2 linked regions of the Homo sapiens genome follow. The protein of the gene in region 2 purifies or fractionates together with the protein of the main gene of each other region. This does not show direct contact. Each region holds a gene or a part of one and is shown on either strand. Other genes may lie near its edges.

Region 1 (3,500 bases), on a different chromosome or scaffold from region 2:
AAGCAAGATAGATAAACCTCTAAGTAAATTAAAAAAAAAAAAAGTGAGAAGATCCTAAGAAGCATAATCAGAAATGACAAAGGTGACAGAACTCATACTACAAAAATACAAAAGAGCCTCAGAGACTACTATGAACATCTTTATGTGCACAAACTAGAAAAACCAGAGGAAATGGATAAATTCTTGGAAACACACAACCTCCCAAGATTGAACAAGGAAGAAACTGAAATCCTGAACAGATCATAACAATTTACAAAATTGAATCAGTTATAAAAACAAATCTACAAACCAAAAAAAGACCAGGATCAGATGCATTCACAGCCAAATTATACCAGACAAACAAAGAAGAGCTGGTATCAATCTTACTGAAACTACTCCAAAAAATCAAGATCACACTGAATGGACAAAAGTTAGAAGCATCCCCTCTATGAACTGAAAAAAGACAAGGATGTGCACTCTTACGACTCCTATTCAACATAATACTTTCCATCCTACCCATAGGAATCAGGCAGAAAATTAAAATTTAAAAAAAGGCATCCATATAGGAAAAGAGAAACTCAAATTATCTCTGTTCAACCCTAAGGAGTCCTTCAAAAAACTCCTAGACCTAAGAAAAAGACTTCAGTAAAGTTTCAGGATGCAAAATCAACTTACAACAGTCAGTGGCATTTCTATATGCCAATAATGTTCAAGCTGAGAACCAAATCAAAAATGCAATCCCATCTATAATAGCCACATGAAAAATAAAATACCCAGGAATAAATTTAACCAGGGAGGTGAAAGATTTCTACAAGGAGAACTACAAAACACTGATGAAGGAAATAACAGATGACACAAACAAATGGAAAAACATTCCATGCTCATGGATTGGAAGAATCAAAATTTAAATGACCATACTGCCCAAAACAATCCAAAAATTCTATTCCCATCAAATTAGCAACATCATTTTTCACAAATTAGAAAAAACAATTCTAAAATTCATATGGAACCAAAAAAGAGCCTGAATAGCCAAGCAAAAAGAACACAGCAGGAGGCATCACATTACCCAACTTCAAACTATACTACAAGGATATCCTAACCAAAACAGCATGTTACCAATACAAAAACAGACATCTGTATCAATGTAACAGAATAGAGAACCCAGAAATAAAGCCATACACCTATAACCAGTTGATCTTGAACAAAGCTGACAAAAGCAAAAATGGGGAAAGGACACCTATTCAATAAACAGTGCTAAAAAGAAAAAAAAACCCAAAAAACACACAAAAAAACTGGCTAGCATGTGCAGAAGAATGAAACTGGACCCCCTACCTTTCACCACATACAAAAATTAACTCAAGACGTATTAAAGACTTAAACATAAAACCTCAAACTATAAAGATCCTATTTTAAAAAACCTAGGAAAAACTCTTCTGCACATGGGCCTAGGCAAAGAATTTATGACTAAAACCTCAAAGGCAAATGCAACAAAACAAAAATTCATAAACAAGATTTAATTAAACTAAAAAGCTTCTACATAGCAAAAGAATCAACAAAGTAAAGAGGTAACCTAAAGAATGGGAAAAAAATATTTGCAAACTGTACATCTGACAAAGGACTAGGATCCAGAATCTACAAGGAATCTCAAACAAATGAACAAGAAAAAAAAAATAACTCCATTAAAAAGTGAGCAATGGACATAAACGGATACTTCTCAAAAGAAGACATACAAGTGGCCAACAAACATATGAAAAAAATGCTCAGAATCACTAATCATCAATAAAATACAAATTAAAACCACACTGATACCATCTCACACCAGTCAGAATTGCTATTATTAAAGAGTTAAAAAATAACAGATGACAAGGATGCAGAGAAAAGGGAGTATCATACACTGCTGGTGGGAATGTAAATTAGTTCAACCCCTGTGGAAAAGAGTAGAGGGATTTCTCAAAGAACTTAGAACTATCATTAGACCCAGCATTCCCACTACTGGGTATCTATCCAAAGGAAAAGAAATCATTCTATCAAAAAGACACTGCACTAGTATGTTTATCACAGCACTATTCACAACAGCAAAGTCATTGAATCAAACTAAGTACCTATCAACAGTAGATCAGATAGGCCGGGAGCAGTGGCTCATGCCTGTAATCCCAGCACTTTGGGAGGCCGAGGTGGGCAGATCATGAGGTCAGGAGTTTGAGACCAGCCTGACCAACATAGTGAAACTCCATCTCTACTAAAAATACAAAAATCAGCCAGGCATGGTGGCATGTGCCTGTAATCCCAGCTACTCAGGAGGCTGAGGCAGGAGAATTGCTTGGACCCGGGAGGCGGAAGTTGCAGTGAGCCAAGATCACGTCACTGCGCTCCAGCGTGAGCAACAGAGCGAGACTCTGCCTCAAAAACAAAACAAAACAAACAAACAAACAAAAAACAGTAGATTAGATAAAGAAAATGTGGTACATATACACCGTGGAATACTACGTAGCCATAAAAATGAATGAAATCATGTCCTTTGGAGCAACATGGATGCAGCTGGAGGTCATTATCCTAAGCAAATTAATGCAGAAACAGAAAATCAAATATCACACCTTCTCTCACTTGTAAGTGGGGTCTAAACAATAGGTAAATATAGACATAAAGATGAAAATAAGATACTGTGGATTCCAAAAGTGGGAAAGGGCCGGGCGTGGTGGCTCACGCCTGTAATACCAGTACCTTGGGAGGCCAAGGTGGGCAGACCACTTGAGCTCACAAGTTTGAGACCAGCCTGGCCAACATGGTGAAACCCCATCTCTCCTAAAAATACAAAAAATTAGCCGGGCATGGTGGCTCGTACCTGTAGTCCAAGCTACTCGGGAGGCTGAGGCAGGAGAATCGCTTAAACCTGGGAGGCAGAAGTTGCAATGAGCCTAGATCAAGCCACTGCACTCCAGCCTGGGTGACAGAGACTCCATCTCAAAAAAAAAGGTGGGAAGTGACAGGTAAGGGGTAAAGGTTGAAAAACAACCTACTGGGTACTATGTTCGCTATTTCAGTGATAGGTTCAACAGAAGCCCAAACCTCAGCATGATGCAATATACCCATGTAACGAACCTGCACGTGTATCCCCCACAACCCAAATCTAAAATAAAAGCTAAAGCGTAGTCTAACTTCATTTATAACTAACCAGAGAAACAAACCGTATTAAAGCTGGACGTTAGGAGTCAACCAGCATCATATTATCAAGTGTGTAGTCATGACCCGTTAGTAGATTAAAACAAAACAAAACAATATCGTGGATTGGAGCTAGCATTTTTTTAATGGAACTAAATAGGATTGATTTGCAAATATCAAGTGTATTGAAGGTAGTGAGCGCTTTATTTTATTTTATTTTATTTTTGAGACACAGTCTCTCTGTCGCCCTGGCTGGAGTGCAGTGACGCGATCTCGGCTCACTGCAACCTACACCTCCCAGGTTCAAGTGATTCTCCTGCCTTAGCCTACTGAGTAACTGGGATTACAGGTGCGCGCCACCA
Region 2 (3,323 bases):
CAGGCTGGTCTCAAACTCCTGACCTCAGGTGATTGACCCACCTCAACCTCCCAAAGTGCTGGGATTACAGGTGTGAGCCACTGCACTGGGCCAAGAATAAGATTTTTAAAAACATTTTCGCATCTGGAGGCTCCAGGGGGCTTCCCTGAGAAACGGCAGCCTCTGCGGTCAGAGAGGCTGCAATTCAGAGCGTTCCCACAAACAGCACCATGTGCTCGTGCTTACCTGCTTGGGTGTGTGAGTCACCTGGAGATGGGGTGCAGAAACATTGACATACCTGAGCTATCTTTCTTCCTCTGCCCTTTGCAGGTGTTTGATGTACAGAGGAAAGTCACCTATAGGAACCTGAGCACCTGGTATACAGAGCTTCGGGAGTTCAGGCCAGAGATCCCATGCATCGTGGTGGCCAATAAAATTGATGGTGGGGCCATCCCTGCACCTGGGTGTTAGCAATTCACTGGGGACCTGCCCTCATACATTTCCTCCTCCATTCCCCGGGCAGGCAACCTTCAGTGATTGGTCCTCCCTCCCACGATAAGATACAACCCTTGGTTGGTTGCTTGCATTCTTCCCACCTTATAAAGAAGCCAGCTAAGCCGACCTGCCCTCTTTCCAAGACACAGATCCCTATTAACTGAGCTCTTTCTAGGACCTGTTTCCCAATCATCCCTGCCTATCCCACTTTCTGGAATGAAGGCCTCCAGTGGCCCCCCCCTCCAAACCTTCTTCCCTTCCCTTGACAGACAGACCAATGTCCTACCTTCTCTCTACAGCAGACATAAACGTGACCCAAAAAAGCTTCAATTTTGCCAAGAAGTTCTCCCTGCCCCTGTATTTCGTCTCGGCTGCTGATGGTACCAATGTTGTGAAGGTGTGGTTGACTGCAGAGGTAGCTAGCAAGGTCAGGGCGCTAGGTGGTAAAGGGAAGCTGTGAAGAGAAGGGCTTACTGCAGGTGTGATGGAGAGAACCGGGACAGTGCATGGGCATGGGTGGCAGGGAGGGGAGGAGCTGATGGGCCTGGACTTGATGAGGCAGAAGTCCATTGACCATACATAGGTCAGGGTGACGGGGAGAGGCAAATGGAGGGGTAAGGTTGCTGATTTTAGGAATGGAGTATTGTGTAGTCTCACAGTGGGGCCAGTGGGGTGGACTGGGCAGAGTCCAAGGCACTCTCATCCACCATCTCTACCTCACCCCCAGCTCTTCAATGATGCAATTCGATTAGCTGTGTCTTACAAACAGAACTCCCAGGACTTCATGGATGAGATTTTTCAGGAGCTCGAGGTAGGTCAGGTCCACATTTCGGGTGGGATGGAAGAAACGGCTCCTCTTCAGGGATAGGGACTACAACCCAGTAGAGTGACTCTTGCCTAAGTTTGCCCCACTAAATGTATCAGAGCTGCGGTTGAGCAAATGCAGGGCCAGGCCTCACCTGCGACCTTGTTCACAGAACTTCAGCTTGGAGCAGGAAGAGGAGGACGTGCCAGACCAGGAACAGAGCAGCAGCATCGAGACCCCATCAGAGGAGGCGGCCTCTCCCCACAGCTGAGGGGCTGGGGCTAGGGGTGGGTGGAGCCCTTTTAAAATACCCTTCCCTTCAACAACTCTCCAGCTCTGAATGGAGAAACTCTCTAGGCCATCCCCTCTTCTACCTCCTGCAACCCACCCATCCTATTAGCCTCCCACATTCTAGGCCCGTGATACAGGGATGAGGTCAGCACCAGCAAACTCTGGACTGGTGGAAGAATTCCCCACCAGATCTCCTTGAAGCAGAAGTAGGGATCAGCATCATTAACACCTTCCCCACCCCCTCCCCGCAGGCAGACAGTGAAGAGAATCAGAAAACATGATTATGTGTCACTTTAATACAGGAAATTTAGGTGTTTTTTGGTGTTTTTGTTTTTGTTTTTGTTTTCTTTCCAAAGCTCACCTCGGGGACAATTCCTTGGGCTTCTCCTGAGGTAATGATTTACCCCCCCACCCACAGCTGAGTCTGTGAGGCCCCATCCTTTCCCTACGTTTTCTCCCATCTTTTTTCCTCTTCAGTCTCCCAGTCATCTGGTTTGTTTGTTTCTTTGTTCGTTCTGAGACGGAGTCTCGCTCTGTCGCCAGGCTGGAGTGCAGTGGCGCAGTCTCGGCTCGCTGCAACCTCTGACTCCCTGGTTCAAACGATTCTCCTGCCTCAGCCTCCCGAGTGGCTGGCATCACCACGCCCAGCTAATTTTTGTATTTTTAGTAGAGACGGGGTTTCACCATGTTGCCCAGGATGGTCTCGATCTCCTCACCTCGTGATCCGCCCGCCTCGGCCTCCCAAAGTGCTGGGATTACAGGCATGAGCCACCGCGCCCGGCCCCAATCATCTGTTTTTAAACAATCGTTTTTGAGCAGATAGCTATTCATTCCAGATTTTCGTGTACCCATTCTGTTTCAGGAGCTCTTCTAGGTAAAGCTGAGATCACAGGAACAGCAGGTGACAGGCCTAGCTATAGTTAGGAATACACAAGCCGTAAAATCGAGTCCTTACAGCCATACCACAAGGTACGTCCATTTGGACTACAAGAAGAGCTTCCTTTAAAGTTCCTATTTCAGCATAAAGAGGCTGTCCTTTTTTTTGAGGAATAGTTTGGACCTTGTGCCTCCTGTGGGAGGCTGAGGACTGCAAGAGGAGAGCTAGCAGATATGCCTGTTCACCCCTCTCTGGTACTTGTGGCTTGCTAGTATGTTTTTATGATAATCTCGGGCATTGTTTGCATTGTGTTTATTAATAGGGTTTTGTTTTTGTTGTTTCCTTTTTTACAGTAAAGGCTGAATTACATAAACATTGAGTAAATGTATGTGCTTTGTGGCTCTGAAGTGTGTACTGAGCAAAAAGACAAAAGAATCTGCAAATCATCACCCTTATCAATGAGGGGTAGCTGCCTTGACCTGTTGCAGGGTAGCCCATGTTTACTCTCAATTCACTATATTGGAGGCCATTTCAGTGGAATTTAGTGTTTTCAAAAGAATTCAATTACCTATTAATTTGGGAGCTCAAGAACAAGCACATTTCCCCTTGAAATCAGCAATACTTAGATGTTCAACGTAAGATGTTTGACCTGACCAGGGGTTCCCAGGAACGTATACCCTGATGAGGTAGAACTTAAAAAAATGTAGTTACTGTAAATAACTACTAAGTACTTAAAAAAAAATACAACAGCCTTACTGAGATAGAATTTGCAGACTATAAAGTTCACCATCGTGTTGGTTTTATGGGACTATTCTGTATCAGGTTCCTTAGAAGCTGACCCTGAGAAGGCCGTGGTTCAAATGACTTAATTAGGGT

What was found. Proteins that work in one complex are often made in the same cells at the same time.
Region 1: the proteins of RABL2B (region 2) and CEP350 purify together in Homo sapiens (affinity purification with mass spectrometry; one large-scale study listed by BioGRID and IntAct). This does not show direct contact.

Annotation. Positions count from the first base shown.
Region 1 is NC_000001.11:179,961,310-179,964,809, reverse strand, and holds part of CEP350 (centrosome-associated protein 350), read right to left. Parts: intron 1-3,500. UniProt on the Homo sapiens protein: Plays an essential role in centriole growth by stabilizing a procentriolar seed composed of at least, SASS6 and CPAP. Required for anchoring microtubules to the centrosomes and for the integrity of the microtubule network.
Region 2 is NC_000022.11:50,767,003-50,770,325, reverse strand, and holds the end of RABL2B (rab-like protein 2B), read left to right. Parts: intron 1-309; coding exon 310-421; coding exon of another isoform or gene 422-450; exon of another isoform or gene 451-773; coding exon 774-871; coding exon of another isoform or gene 872-901; intron 902-1,201; coding exon 1,202-1,285; intron 1,286-1,451; coding exon 1,452-1,550; 3' UTR 1,551-2,820; downstream 2,821-3,323. UniProt on the Homo sapiens protein: Small GTPase required for ciliation. Activated in a guanine nucleotide exchange factor (GEF)-independent manner via its intrinsic GDP for GTP nucleotide exchange ability.